Homo sapiens: one gene and its partner. The protein of the gene in region 1 interacts with the protein of each later gene in a biochemical or structural test. Each region holds a gene or a part of one and is shown in the gene's direction. Other genes may lie near its edges.

The links. Proteins that work in one complex are often made in the same cells at the same time.
Region 2: the proteins of TNFRSF21 (region 1) and NGFR form a complex in vitro, tested with the Homo sapiens proteins (one study listed by IntAct).

What each region holds. Positions count from the first base shown.
Region 1 is NC_000006.12:47,306,543-47,315,077, reverse strand, and holds the start of TNFRSF21 (tumor necrosis factor receptor superfamily member 21 precursor), read left to right. Parts: upstream 1-5,172; 5' UTR 5,173-5,566; coding exon 5,567-5,662; intron 5,663-8,535.
Region 2 is NC_000017.11:49,505,293-49,512,292, forward strand, and holds part of NGFR (tumor necrosis factor receptor superfamily member 16 precursor), read left to right. Parts: intron 1-364; exon of another isoform or gene 365-1,006; coding exon 1,007-1,366; intron 1,367-5,119; coding exon 5,120-5,372; intron 5,373-5,524; exon of another isoform or gene 5,525-5,608; intron 5,609-5,690; exon of another isoform or gene 5,691-5,821; intron 5,822-6,599; coding exon 6,600-6,760; intron 6,761-7,000. UniProt on the Homo sapiens protein: Low affinity receptor which can bind to NGF, BDNF, NTF3, and NTF4. Forms a heterodimeric receptor with SORCS2 that binds the precursor forms of NGF, BDNF and NTF3 with high affinity, and has much lower affinity for mature NGF and BDNF.

The sequences.
Region 1 (8,535 bases):
TTGTTATATCTACTTCTGTTTCCTGGAAAGCAGAGCCAGGAGAGCGCATAGTGCAGCTCCTGATTGTGCCATATGTGGGAATGGGAAAAAGTGAAATTAAATGAACAGGAGGATTTGGAAGCACAAATAAACAAGGCAAAGCAGCTTATTGGGTAAATCAAATTACTGATAGACGTCCTACCTGTGAAATAACTATTCAGGGAAAGAAATTTAAAGGCTTGGTAGATACAGGAGCAGACATGTCAATCATTTCTCTACAGCACTGGCCGTCCACGTGGCCAATTCAACCCACTCAATTTAACATGGTTGGGGTTGGTAAAGCCCCTGAAGTATATCAAAGTAGTTATATTTTGCATTGTGAAGGGCCCGATGGACAACCTGGGACTATTCAACCAATTATAACTTTCTGTACCTATAAATTTATGGGGAAGAGATTTATTACAACAATGGGGAGCACAAATTCTAATTCCAGAACAATTATATAGCCCTCAAAGTCAACATATGATTCATGAAATGGGGTATGTACCCGGAACAGGACTAGAAAAAAAAATTTGCAAGGTTTAAAAAGTTCCCGCCAAAGATTAGGATATCATTTTTGATGGCAGCCATTGTTAAGCCTCCAGAACCTATACCTTTAGAATGGTTAACAGATAAGCCAATTTGGATAGAACAATGGCCGCTAAGTAAAGAGAAACTGGAGGCTTTGGAGAAATTAGTTACTGAACAATTAGAAAATGGGCACATAGCTCCAGCATTTTCTCCTTGGAATTCTCCAGTTTTCGTAATTAAGAAAAAATCAGGTAAATGGAGAATGTTAACTGACTTCAGAGCTATCAATTCAGTTATATAACCTATGGGAGCATTACAGCCAGGATTGCCTTCTCCTGCTATAATTCCAAAAAATTGGGCTTTAATAGTCATAGATTTAAAAGATTGTTTCTTTACTATCCCTTTAGCTGAGCAAGACTGTGAACAGTTTGCATTTACAATTCCTGCAGTAAACAACATGCAGCCTGTTTTCATTGTTTTACAGATGGGTCTAGTAATGGTAAATCTTCTTATTCTGGATCAAAAGGTAAAGTTTTTCAGATGCCCTATACTTCAGTTCAAAAAGCAGAGCTTGTAGCTATAATTGAGGTATTGACTGCTTTTGATATGCCTATTAATGTGATTTCTGATTCTGTTCCTATAATTGGGGCAGAATCAGGTTTACAAAAAAATTGGGGCAGAATCAGGTTTACAAAAAAAATTGGGGCAGAATAGGTTTACAAAAACCTATTTGTAAACAGGATTGGACCCAGTTAGAAAAAATGAACGTACTTGTTTAGGAAGATTGCATTGCAGAACAGGCAGAGGTGCTGCACAACGATTCCTATGGAATCATTATTAATTCGTCCCCTAAGGGGACGTTTAGCTTGAATTGCACCTCTCAGTCTGCATGCCACGGCCACACTATGTTCAGATGATCTGAACAAAACGGTCAGATGGTAGAAATGATAAGAACTACGGCAAAAGTTCCCATTACCTGGAACCATGGTGGTATAGCAGCACCTCAGCCTCAAATGATATAGCCCGCTCTAGGAGCTTAACATAAGGAATTAAAATTAAAAGAACAAATGTTTAAAGCATCGCAGGCACACCTGACCTTAATGCCAGGAACTGGAGTGCTTGAAGGAGTTACAGACAAATTAGCAGCTAGTAACCCATTACAATGGATAAAAACACTTGGAAGCTCTGTGATTTCAATGACGTTTGTGCTTTTAATCTGTGTTGTTTGTCTTTGTATAGTCTGCAGATGTGGAACCTGACTCCTGCGAGAAGTAGCTCACCATGACAAAGCTGCCTTTGCTTTTATCGATTTGCAAATCAGAGAAGGGGGACATGTTGGGAGCAGGCCCCCCAAAATCTGGCCATATACTGGCCTCAGAACTGGCCATAAACAAAATCTCTTTTGCACTGTAACATGTTCATAATGGCCCTAACGCCCAAGCTGGAAGGTTGCAGGTTTACAGGAATGAGGGCAAGGAACACCTGGCCCACCCAGGGCGGAAAACCACTTAAAGGCATTCTTAAGCCACCAACAATAGCTTGAGCGGTCTGTGCCTTAAGGACATGCTCCTGCTGCAGTTAACTAGCCCATCCTATTCCTTTAATTCAGCCCACCCTTCGTTTCCCATAAGGGATGCTTTTAGTTAATCGAATATCTATAGAAACAATGCTAATGACTGGTTTGCTGTTAATAAATATGTGGGTAAATCCCTGTTCGGGGCTCTCAGCTCTGAAAGCTGTGAGACCCCTGATTTCCCACTTCACACCTCTATATTTCTGTGTGTGTGTCTTTAATTCCTCTAGCGCCACTGGGTTAGGGTCTCCCCAACGGAGCTGGCATTTTCCTGCCAACTTTCTGTCATTCCCTCATAGATCGGCTCAGGATGTTTGTCATGCAGCAGTCATTTCTCAAAATGTGGACAATTGTTATTTTCATTATAAAGAACATGAAATTTTACTAGACCTTCTGAAAGTGTGCAGGATAAGTTAAAAAAATAATTAAGACAAGATGGTAAATCTGGTGATTTCTTTTTTTTTTTTTTTTTTTTTTTTTGAGACGGAGTCTCGCTCTGTCGCCCAGGTCGGACTGCGGACTGCAGTGGCGCAATCTCTGGTGATTTCTTCAGTATCCAGATGTATATATCAGATTTTTAACAAGAAAGATAAAATAGAAAAAAATGAAAGGTTAGGAAAGCATTAATTGGAATGTACTAAGGACGAGGAAAGAATTAGCAATGATTTTTGAGGTTGGAAAACTAGAAAAATTGTACAACATTGGCAGAAAGAGAGAAAGTCCAAAGGTAGGATGGAGGGTGGAGATAGAGTAATTTTTATGGCAAAGATGACATTGGATTAACTCATTTAGGCCTTCCTTTAAAATTTAGCTATAATTATGATTTATCAACACATATCTCCTCTTTCCTTGGAACTTTGGGAGAAACTTCCTTATGTATCATTGAATTTTTATCCTTTCCCAGAAAACAGACATGTCTAAGTTACCACATTGAAAATGTGGCAATGAATTATTTAATGGTTGCAGCATTGTTACTTCAAAATGGAAGGCATGTATACATTTCAATTCAAAGTAATAAAATTTCACACTGCATCTAGATTCAAATTATCTATAATCTATCACTCTATAGAGGGACATGTATTTAAATGTTAGTAGTAAACAGAATTGAGTAAATTTTTTCATCTCTCAAAATGTATATTAAATTTCAACTTGATATGATCAATGGAACACCAGGAATTCATGAAGTTTCAAAGTGGTCCAAGCACAAATAAACAATTTTCTTTTAGTTTTAGGAAGACAAATAGTTGAGAAGAACTTCTTATACCTGCATAGTAACCCAGACACTAAACTCTAAAGTTGCCCAACTCTTTAGAGCAAATCAATCATATATTACCACGAAAAATGTGAGTTTGGATGCAAGGAGTAAAATGGACTAAATAAAAACGTATTTGAAGCTCCTCCTCCTCTTTAATACCTATGTAACTTCTTAAAAAAAAACAACCCAACCTTATAATAGTATTGGCCAGTCATTTGAATTTTTGAAGAAAAAATTGATACAGTTATGCATGAAAACACAGCATCTATCCCTCACTCTTTCAACTTCTGAAAATAGCTAGAGAGTGGCAAGTCCAACCATCATCCTTTCCCCAAAACTCCATAATTAATGGTAATATTTTCTAGAACTCCTTTGAATTTCACTAGAGGTTATATATTGTAGCTTTTTTCCCACTCTAACATTTATAGACAATACTGACAAATGTTTGAAATAATAGATTGGAATTAACCCTCATATTAATTTTAGCTTCTACCAAAGTGTGCATAGAGCAAAGAATCAAAGGACAACATGTTAACTAATAAAGCAAATAATTGGTACCTATGACTTAGCAAGTTACCTTTATTAGCACTGGGTGTTGGATCTTGAAACTGATAGTTTAAAAAGTGTGATTCTTTTGAAATGGGACCAAAGGAGCCTAGGATAAGCCCAGCACCATAGGGCTCCCAATTGAGGGGTGTGGACTGGATGGCTGAAGAGGTAATATCAATACAGTGTGCCATGTGCTGTCAGTACCTAGATGATGGATAACACGATACCAGAAATGGTGGCCACAGTCAGGAGACTCGGCCTTCCCCCAGGTGAAACAAAGAAAAGGATAACAGCTGCTCTCTTACATTCAGAAGTGTGTGAGATACCAACATCCACGAGAATATTCCAGTTCTCCTTCTGAAGCAGAATACTACCTATTCTACCACCCACATCCTGACAAGGCCTTTGGAAATCAACTCAAAAATTTTTAGCATTATTTTTTGGGGGAAGGGTGATTAAAAAAAATCTCAGGGATAATCCGATTCAAAACTCTTGATTTTTAAATTAGGAAAATGCATCTTTTGATACATTTCAAGGAGTTCAAAAGTCCCTCCAAGACCATCCATGGACCCAACACCAATGACTCTGGGTTTTAAATCCTTTTAGTTTGGATTTCCTTAATTGCATTCATAAGCCCATATTAAAATTAAAATATAAAAAATTAAAATCTTTGCCCCATATTAAAATCACCCTGAAAACTTAAAAAACAAACAAACAACAACAACAACAAACCTCAATGCCCAGACCAGATCCTGTCCTGTTCCAATTAAATCAGAGTCTCTAGAGGTGGGACCCAAGAATCAATATATATGTTTTGAACTCTCCAGGTGATTCCACAGGGCAGCAAAGTTTGAGAAGCAACACACAGGTCTCCTTTTTCGTCACGCAGTTGATCTAAGTGCTCTGTGGTCTATTCACCATCGCTCTCTGATTTAATCATCGTGTCCGAAACAATGGAAAGGCGTATGTAGCTGAAATAATTTAGTTGGAATTATCTCGGAAAAAATAAGTAAAGTTAGATCAGGAGTGAGATGCTTTCTCAGCGCTTTCCCTGGGTCAACAGGCGCGTGCAATTTCCTCAGCGAACGCCAAGGGGCACCCTCTCCCTCCCCGCTCTACCTGGAACGCCTTCGCCTTTCCAACCGCACAAAGAGCCCGGCCTCCTCCCGGGTGACATCACAAAGGGCCGGTCCCCCGCCCCTTCGGCGCCACCACGTGTGTCCCTGCGCCCGGTGGCCACCGACTCAGTCCCTCGCCGACCAGTCTGGGCAGCGGAGGAGGGTGGTTGGCAGTGGCTGGAAGCTTCGCTATGGGAAGTCGTTCCTTTGCTCTCTCGCGCCCAGTCCTCCTCCCTGGTTCTCCTCAGCCGCTGTCGGAGGAGAGCACCCGGAGACGCGGGCTGCAGTCGCGGCGGCTTCTCCCCGCCTGGGCGGCCGCGCCGCTGGGCAGGTGCTGAGCGCCCCTAGAGCCTCCCTTGCCGCCTCCCTCCTCTGCCCGGCCGCAGCAGTGCACATGGGGTGTTGGAGGTAGATGGGCTCCCGGCCCGGGAGGCGGCGGTGGATGCGGCGCTGGGCAGAAGCAGCCGCCGATTCCAGCTGCCCCGCGCGCCCCGGGCGCCCCTGCGAGTCCCCGGTTCAGCCATGGGGACCTCTCCGAGCAGCAGCACCGCCCTCGCCTCCTGCAGCCGCATCGCCCGCCGAGCCACAGCCACGATGATCGCGGGCTCCCTTCTCCTGGTGAGCGCTTGCGTGGACCGGGGGTGGCGGCGGCGCCGGAGCAGAAGGAACCGCTCTCCGGGAGCCGGGCGGGTCACCGGGCCGGGGCTTAGGGAGGCGCGGGGCCCGGCCGACTGGGTTACGGGCACTGAGGGGTTTCCAAGGGAAGGCAACACACCAGAGGGCCTCGACTAGGTTATTTGGGGGAATCTCAGGGCTCAGCCGGGGCTGGGGAATGAAGACGAATTGTTTTCCTTGCAGTCTGGCTTTGCTGGAGGAGACGCTAGAGGTAGCCGCCCAGCTTCTGCGCATTTGAGGGCTTTTCCCCCTACTCGGCCTACCTCGCGCTCCCCACGCCCGCAGCCACAGCCCCCCACCCATCGGCCACTGCCCCTCTGCGTGGTGTGGGGCCTCGCCGCGGTGTGGGGCTCCCACGGCCGGCCGAGGCCGGCGCTTTGTTGCAGCTGCAATGTCATGTCGGGATGCTACCGCAGTGGAAGACAGTGGTACCGGTGCGCGCCGGACACCGGAGACCTCCGGGTGCTGTCGCGCGGTGCATTCCCGAGCAGGGCGCAAGCCGCCCCCTCCTCAATCCCTTTACCCTCTCTCTTCCCTCTTGGCTCGGGTGGGGTCTCAGGTTCTGTATGCCGAAATATCACCCTTAGACCCACTCTCCGGCGCCTCCAAAGCGCCGGCTTCCAGCCAGCCAGCGCGCCGGCACTGGAATGGGGGGAGGGGGAAGGAGATGTGTGTGAAGGAAGATGAATTTTCTACAGTCTTTCCGATCCCTCGTTTACCTGTGGCTAGGCAGGTGACCCTGCAGGGTGGTGCAGTCTCCCTCATCGTCTAAGCTGCATCCACATCTCGGGTCAATCATCTTGACCAAAAACTTACCCTCAACTTCCCCCAAATTCCCTCCCTTTATTTCCAAATATTGGGGTGAAGGGGCAAGTTAGGTGGAAGAAAATTTGAGATCAAACCCTTGAGCTTCCCTTGCCTATCTTTTATCACTGCAGGAGGGATGGAAATTCTTAGCTAAAAACCGAACAAAAAAACCCCCAAGAAACAAGAGCTTGTTTTCACGACAGGGCTGTGTAAGGGAAAAGCAGGCTTGCTGTCTCCTTCCCCAAAAGGGCTTAACGCCTGGCCAGCCAAGAACTGCTTAGATCTCAGGACATTGCAGTTGCTATGGCCTGGGAATTCATCCTACAGACACTCTGGTTCCTTGTGTGTGTGTTTTAAGAGGAAGAGAGAGACTAAATAAAAGTTTGTTACTGTTAGCATTTATAATGAGGCAAGTCCCAGTCTCCCTTCAGAAACTCTTTTCTGCCCACTTATTAATGGCATGGCCAAGGTTTATATCTTTGAAACAAGTGAAACAAGTGTGGTGGATGGTAAGCAGTAGTCGGGGAGTCTCTTGGGACAATGAACCTGGATTGACAGTCTTGGTGTGGAGAGAAACACATCTAGGTCCATGGGAACACTGATCCTAGTTCAGTGGAGTGAGAACTATCATCATTTCCTTTTTCACAGCTTTAGATCCACTACTATCCACTACTATGTTTCAGGTGCTTCTAACACATCTGATTATTATATGCCTCACAGAGTCCATTCCCAGATTAAATCTTAAGTCATTGTGCAATACTCCATTTATTTTACCTTTTAGCATGAGGTAGGTAATTAAACAAAGGTCTTGATGTAATCAAATGGTAGGTTGCCTTAACTAACTGAGAAAGGGCCCAGCTCCTTTTCTTGAATCATCAGGCTAGGCACCCTGGCTTATGCCTGTAATCCCAGCGTTTTGGGCGGCCAGGGTGGGAGGATTGCTTGAGTCCAGGAGTTCGAGATTTGCCTGGGCAACATAGTGAGACCCCATCTCTACAAGAAATTAGGTGGGTGTGGCGGTGGTGTGCGCCTGTATGCCCAGCAACTCAGGAGGCTGAGGTGGGAGGATGGCTTGAGCCCAGGATGTTGAGGCTGCAGTGAGCTGTGACCATGCCACGGCACTCCAGCTTGAGTGACAGAGTGAGACCCTGTCTCCAAAACCAAAATAAAAAATAAGTCATCAAACTCAACCTACCCTAAAAATTGTGCACTGGATTTGCAACTAAAGACCTGACAATTTAAGTTTGGCTACTTTGAAAAAGATAAAATTTATAATGGGGCTTAGGAGCAGTCTCAAGTTGATAACCAATACAGGATTCCTTATTCTTCTGCTAGCTATGCTAAAAAGACTTCAGGTAAATTCATGAAATGGCATGAGGTTCAGCCCTTCATCCTGAAGGGTGACTGGAGGGTGTGCCAGGAATCAGTAGAGACTATGTTATAATCCCCATCCAGGGTGGGGAGGAAATGCCTTTTGTCTTTCACATTCTTATTCTGCATGCCCAAGTCCACAGCACAGGCTTTGTTAATGTATAAAATGATGATCTCATGATACTGTTCCAAGAAGTATTTATCCCATTGGGATCCTTGGCCATGTGAACATAACGGACATCAGGTACTGGAGCCTGGGTACACGTGGCAGGGTACTCAGAACACTACTGGGGGAGGTGGGCAAGTTAGTGGCCTGCCCACGTATTACAGTTAGATTAAAAAGTAATAATCCCAGTAAAATGTTCTATTTATTATGTCTTTTAATGCTCTTCTTTCAAATATCTCCCTTTTTGTGTGATAATATTTATTGTCATCATTTTTGTGTTATGACTTTTTGTTTGTCATGACCGGCTAACTGCATGAAAAATAGCTTACTATAAGCTTATAAAAATACAAATATATAGGTACACAATATGATATAATATATACACATGTATATAGCAATTGTATATGTATAGAGAGAGCAATTGCTACATGCCAGGTGCTTTGTATACAGTATCTCATTTATTCATAGCATC
Region 2 (7,000 bases), on another chromosome or scaffold:
CTCAGGTTCCTAAATCTATGCTCTTCCTGTCCTTGGAGCAAGGATAGGTCCTGCCAGATCCAGGGTGGCACAGAGTTCCCCACCCAAAGCTGGAAGGGGTGAAGAAGATCTGGCCCTGTTCCTTCCCCTCCCTGTACAAGGAGGCAAGGACCCTGGCGTGCCCAGCCTCCTTCTCCTTATTCTGGAGTGCACATCCAGTAATTAAGAAAACATGAGTGAAGAATGAGCTTGGACATCTCCCTTGCATCCTGGCCGAAAGGGCAGACGACGCATGTGCAGATCTCAAAAGGGTGATCATATAGTTGTGCAGCTTGTGTACTGCTCAACAATATCCATCTGAGAGAGTGAGTGTGGGCTAAGAGCCAGCTCTCTAGCTTCAGTGGCTCCTGCCTTACCTGAGCCCTCTTGCCTGCAGGTCCGTCCCCACCCTCAGGATCCAAGCCCTTCAGCAGCATGGGGGTAGTGCCATGGGTGGGAAATTCTGCTGTCTAACCCCGGTCACTCCCATTTAGGCTGCATCTGAGCCCACACCTGTGTGGAGAGGAACTGAAGGCAGATGAGGCAGGAGGCTCCCTAGGGGAAGGCCTACCTTGCCTGGACCGGGTTAGCAGCCCAGCTCTGGCCCGCGGGGAGGGCTGGGTGGGAACCACGTTCAGATTATTCCTTAATCATGCTGGGAACATAGTACAGGCCTGGGAACTCTCAAAGAGAATTTGCCAAGAAACTTAGCGGCACCAGCTGGGTTATGCCGGAAAGCCTCCCGGCCGGCCAGTGCTTCTGGAGCCTGGAGGATGCGGCTCCGGGCCTCCTCCCCCTTTCCCAGTTGGCTGCCACCAACTTTCACAGGCTAGGGGTCAGGGTCCCTTGGAAGAGGGTGGGAGCCGATGAGAAGGCTGAAGGAGGAAGTCAGCGTCCTGGCAGGCAATAGGGGAGGGAGAGACTCCAGCTCCTGCGTCCCGGGTGCCCAAAAGAGCAGACGACTAAATCTGGTGTCCGCTGCGCTCAGGCGTGACGTTCTCCGACGTGGTGAGCGCGACCGAGCCGTGCAAGCCGTGCACCGAGTGCGTGGGGCTCCAGAGCATGTCGGCGCCGTGCGTGGAGGCCGACGACGCCGTGTGCCGCTGCGCCTACGGCTACTACCAGGATGAGACGACTGGGCGCTGCGAGGCGTGCCGCGTGTGCGAGGCGGGCTCGGGCCTCGTGTTCTCCTGCCAGGACAAGCAGAACACCGTGTGCGAGGAGTGCCCCGACGGCACGTATTCCGACGAGGCCAACCACGTGGACCCGTGCCTGCCCTGCACCGTGTGCGAGGACACCGAGCGCCAGCTCCGCGAGTGCACACGCTGGGCCGACGCCGAGTGCGAGGGTGAGTGCGGTTCGGGGGGCGGGGGGAGTGGGGGTGCGGGGGTGGGCTGGGGGCATAAGGAAGGGCGCTCTCTGGAGGTCGACAAGGACCCTGCCTGGCCTGCTGGGGCAGCTTGGTGACCTTGAGGCAGCGTGCACCTTCCCTGAGCTTCAGTCCTTTCCTGGTAACCTAAGGGAGGAGGTCATTCCCCATCCTGTCTCAGCAAAGAACCCCTCTCTGTGTTACCTTCTTTGGGCTGTTTGGAAAGTGGGCGTTCTCAGCGTCCCAGGCCGCGGGTACTACATTGTAACTCATCCTCCGGGACGCATTTCTCTGTGGCTTCCCGCTAGTGATTAGCTGAACAGCAAGCAGCTCGAAGGTGGCCACTACCCCCAGGGCACAGAACGGGAGAGGTCTGATCCATGAGGCAGGCTTTCTGAACTGGAAGAGCAGCTTGAGGACCCTCAGGAGCTGGGACCCTTTGACTCTGAGCCCTGGTCTAGGTCCATGGTGGGTTTTGGCTCTGGGACCTGAGATGGAACCCACCCTGTCCTTGACTGACGTTAGGGAGTCCACTCCTGTCTCTGGGCCTCGGTTTCCTCACTGGTCATATGGCTGCCAGGGTTGTTGCGGGTTAGGGAATACAGTGGGGCTGGCCCACTTCAGCTTGCCCTGTCTAGGGGAGGGGTCAACCGTGTTCCGCAGTTTAGTGAAGGATGAGGGGCATGCAGGGAACACTAAGGAGGGGCTCTGTGGAAGAAGAAGGAGGGGAGGGGCAGACCTGGGGCTCAAAAGCCCGGGGACAAGGCAGTGCATGCTCGTGGCTGTCAGCTCCAGGGATGGATGGGAGCTGGGCGTGCCCACCTTAGCCAAGCACAGGCCCCAAGGAGATGGGGTGGTTCTTGGGATGGGAGAAGGAAGCCCCGTGGGAGCCAGGGCAGAGCTGTTTTGGTCTCTGGTTGGTGACGTCCGTCTCAGGGGAGACTGGTGGGCTTTTCCACTTCGGGGAGAGGCTGGCAGTGCCTTTACATCCTGTCCATCATCCTGTGGCCATGCACACATTGAGCTATTTCCCTTTGAGAACTAACCTGCATCCTCAGGTTGCCTTTACCCTGAGCAGGCAATATAGTACCTCCTTCAGTGAGCCCCCAGTTTGATGGGAGAGATAGCCTTCGCCCAGTCTAATGAGAGAGACGTGGTCCCAGCACTTAGTCCCCAGCTGAAGGAGAGATAGCTCTCACTTTAGAGATCCCCCATTCTGATGGAGGCAGCAGAGCTTCTGCCTCAGTTAGCACCCAGATCTCCTGCCCCTGGGGACCCTCCAGTCTGATAGGGGCTCCAACCCACACCTGCCTTCCAAGTCCTGCCATCTCTGGCTTTAGGAGCTCAGGATGGGGAGGGCTGTTACGCTGGGCTAAGGCCAGGTTGAGCTCAAAGCTTCCTGCCTTGGAGAAGGAATGAGGAGTAGGATGTGGTGGTTCTGTTGGCAATTGCCCTGGGCCAGGAGACAGGCAAGTGGCATCAGGCGCCAGGCAGAGCGCAGGAAGGGTTTCAGCAGCCAGGCATCAGGCAAGCAGGCAGCTCATTTCTGTAGGCAAGTCCAGACCAGCCAGCTGGGGGCGGGGCGGGGGGACTTGGGGGCGCTGCTAGAGCAAAGAAAGGTGGTGACTGTGGGAGGAGCAGGCTTTGTCTTTTGGGGCATTCACAGATTCCTCTCAGATACCAGCCCACTTTCCCAGCCACCCCGAAGGAGGAGGGTGCTCCTGAGGGAGTGTTCATACCAGACCCTGTTCCCCTTTCAGCTTCAGGCTCTGAAGGGTTAAATGTCAGCTCTGGGACAAGAGACCATTTCAGGAAATGGAATTTGATTCTTGGTTTTGTTGCCCCCTCCCCTCCAGCGTACCATACTTTCCCCGCATTTACTTACGTTTCAGGTGTCAACATGGTGACTCACCCACCCTCAGGGCAGAAGGGCTACCCGCTGCCCCAGTGAAATTCGGTTTGAATAGGGATAACCTGGTCCCTCCATGCAGCCCGGAAATGGCTGTCAGGACCTGCCAAGGGCTTAGTAGGTTGGAATGCTAGTGGACGTGGCCACATCTGGATCTCATCCCCCCGCCCCCGTCAGAGGGGATTGGAGAGATGAGGGCAGCTCCCCAAGAGTCAGTGCCGCCTCTGGTCTGGCCACGCCTTGCTACCCTCCCAGCCTTCCCCTACCATGCTCTGATCTCGGTGATGGTCTCATTCATTGGGCACCCGGACATGTACACTCCTTCACCCTCTGGCTTGGGGTCAGTCTGAGCTGAGCTGTGTCTCCAGCCTCTGGACTTGGGCTGCCCCCCAGCTTGCCCAGTCCCCTGGCAGAGCAAGAGAAGACCCTCCCCAGTCCAATGCTCCACCTGGGGCTGCCAGAAGACAGGGCTCTGTCTCCTTCACTACCTCTGGCCCCTCCCAGGACGGAGACGGGGAAGGGTGGTTTGGGTGACAGATGGCAGCCCCTCACTGCTGGCAGCCAGATGGATTCTAGATTCACATCTGGGGGCTTTGCCCCTCAGAAGGTGCTGAAAACGGGCCTTTGAAGCATTTCATCTTGAGTGGAAGAGGCCAGAAGATGGGTGGCAGCTTCTACTCCTGCTTGGGTGGGCAAAGTGGGGGCTGGGAGGGCAGAGCTGGGAGCCAGTTACCCTCCCCTTCACCCCATTGGCATGTCCTGCCTGCTTTCCCTCCCTGCCCCAGGCGTGGGAAGTGAGGAGGGACGGGGTAGGCAACATTGCCCAGACAAGTATCCCCAGGCCGTCCAGAGCCCACAACCCCTAGCACTGCCCCTGGCTGTGTGGCAGAATGGAAAATCCCACCCACTGGTGCCAGGAAGGGCTGGGTCCCCTGCCAGGGAGGCTGGCAATGCCCAGCTAGCATGAGAGGGTCTAGGTGGGTGGCAAGTCACAGTCTCCCCCCGCCAGCTGAGGCATTGAGCTGGACCTGCCTCATGGGCCCCTTCTCCACTGGCTCTCTGCTTCCTGACCAAGGAGGGTTGGGGCTACCTGATGCTGTCATCTCTGGTTGGCAGGATCAGGCTAGGTGGGAGCCAGGCAAGACAGGAAACAGAGGCTGGCCACTGTCCAAGGGCTGGCTGGAGGGAGGCAATCCAGCTGCCCCCGCACCCCTCCTTTCCACCCAAGCCTAGAGCCTGAGACATGAGGTCAAAAAGTCGGGGAGTGCTCTCAGGGAGGTGGTGTGGGGGAAGCACCTCTCTGACCAGACCTGTGTACCCTCTTCTTTCCTTAGGACAGGAGTGACTAGGGTCATCAAGGACAAGCTGGGGCCAGAGAGACATTTCCCAGAGTGACTCCAGCTCAAGGCCTCCCTGTGGTCAGGCTTCTTTGTGTGTTTGCTCCTAGATAGGCCTCTCTAGGTACTCAGGAGGTGGAATAGAATTCCAGGACCATAGCCCCAGATGGAAGGGAGCTTAGAGACTGTCTCTCTTAATAGCCCCATTAGATAAATAAGGAAATCAAGGTTCTGAGAGAAAAGGGGGCTGGGCCAGAGTCACCCAGCAAGTCAGTGGCGAAGCTGAAGGAGATGCAGCTCTGTGGGCCCACAGGCCTTGCTCTTTAGCATCATGACATCATGCACGCAATCCCAGCTGTGCATAACAGCTGGGCACAAGAGCACCTGGAGCCAGGGCGGGGACACAGGAAGAACACGGCAGTGGGTTAGAGCTAAAAGGGAGGAGTGGGGGAAGTGGGTCCTCACTCCTGTGGCCTTTTCTCCCAGAGATCCCTGGCCGTTGGATTACACGGTCCACACCCCCAGAGGGCTCGGACAGCACAGCCCCCAGCACCCAGGAGCCTGAGGCACCTCCAGAACAAGACCTCATAGCCAGCACGGTGGCAGGTGTGGTGACCACAGTGATGGGCAGCTCCCAGCCCGTGGTGACCCGAGGCACCACCGACAACCTCATCCCTGTCTATTGCTCCATCCTGGCTGCTGTGGTTGTGGGCCTTGTGGCCTACATAGCCTTCAAGAGGTAAGAGAGGGCACGGTGGCGACAGAGAGGGGAGATGTTTGCCCTCAAGGAAGACTTTGCTGTGACCTTGACCTGAAAACATACACACCCTTTTAACTCAACCCCAAACCAAGCTCATCCTCACTCATCATCTGCCGCCCCACTCCAGGGTGCAGCAGGTCAGCAGGAGGTGAGGGGAGAGGATCCACCTGTCCTGTCCTGTCCTCTCCTGCCCTGTCCTGGCTCCAGCCCCTCCCACTCCCATGCCGCACCACTCCCTGACTCCCCACCCCCAACTGCTTGTGTCCTCATCCCCAACCTCCTTCACCCCACAGTCACCTGCGTGTGCATATGTCTCTTCCCCTTCGCTTGTCACACTGGGAATGCTGTGGCACCCACATCCAGGAATCCAGGATGTGCACGAACTCCCAGAAGGCATTTTAAAGCTTTAAATGCATTTTCCATTCTTTCTAAAAAAAAAAAAAAAAAATCATCAAAGTAACACATCCGTGTTTAGGAAAATGCAAACAAGACCAATATCTTTCAAAGCAAAAAGTAAAAGCCCCCTTTTATCTCCCCAAATCCTACTTCTCTCCTTATTGGAATCTGTTTGAAATGGATCCTTCCCAACTATTTTCTGTGTGTCTTTTTTTATAAACATGTATATAAACCTTTTATAATTACATGTAAACATGGAGGGCTTTTTAGGCATCAGTGAGATCACATTGTACATATTCTACAGCTTACTTTTTTCACTCAGTCTCCCTCAGGAGACCTTTCCTCAGGAATGTAGATTAGCTGATCATTTGTAACCACTCATTCAATAGTATGGATGGATGGTAATTTATTTAGCCAGTCCCCATTGATGGACATTTGTTTTTTTTTTTTTTCCAGTTTTTTGTTATTGCTTATAATTGCAGAGGAAATCCTTTTATATGTCACTGCCCACATGTGGGAGTATTTTAGAAGGGTAGATTGGGAGAAGAGGAGTTCCTGAGCAGTCACTTTTGCTGCACTGCTCATTCCAGGAACATTTACTGAACACTTACAGAGGGCCCCTCTGCCCTCATGGAGCTTTCAGGGTAGGTGGGGGCAGATGTGCAAAGAGGAGCCTTAGATGGTGGGGTGGCGGTTATAATTGGGCACCCGCCATGCCCCTGGCCCTCACACGGCAGAGCACAGATACTCAGCTGCATCGGCCACTACAGCCCCTCGCCCCCTGAAACCTGGCCTGTCCTCTGGCTCCAGGTGGAACAGCTGCAAGCAGAACAAGCAAGGAGCCAACAGCCGGCCAGTGAACCAGACGCCCCCACCAGAGGGAGAAAAACTCCACAGCGACAGTGGCATCTCCGTGGACAGCCAGAGCCTGCATGACCAGCAGCCCCACACGCAGACAGCCTCGGGCCAGGGTGAGCAGCGGCCCGCTGGGGAGCTGAGGCGGAGCTGAGGCTGAGGAAACAGAAGCAATTAAGATTAGACTCCAGGAAGGACTGTCGGGGGGGCGGCAGGGCTGGCTCAGCGGTGCCCCTGTAGATGGATGGAGAGGCTGGCCGAGGGGAATGGGAGGGAGAGGTCCTCTCTAGAGGAACGACTTGGGAAATGGAGGCTTTTACAAGTTGGAGCATCCAGACTCATCAAGCTAATTGTCC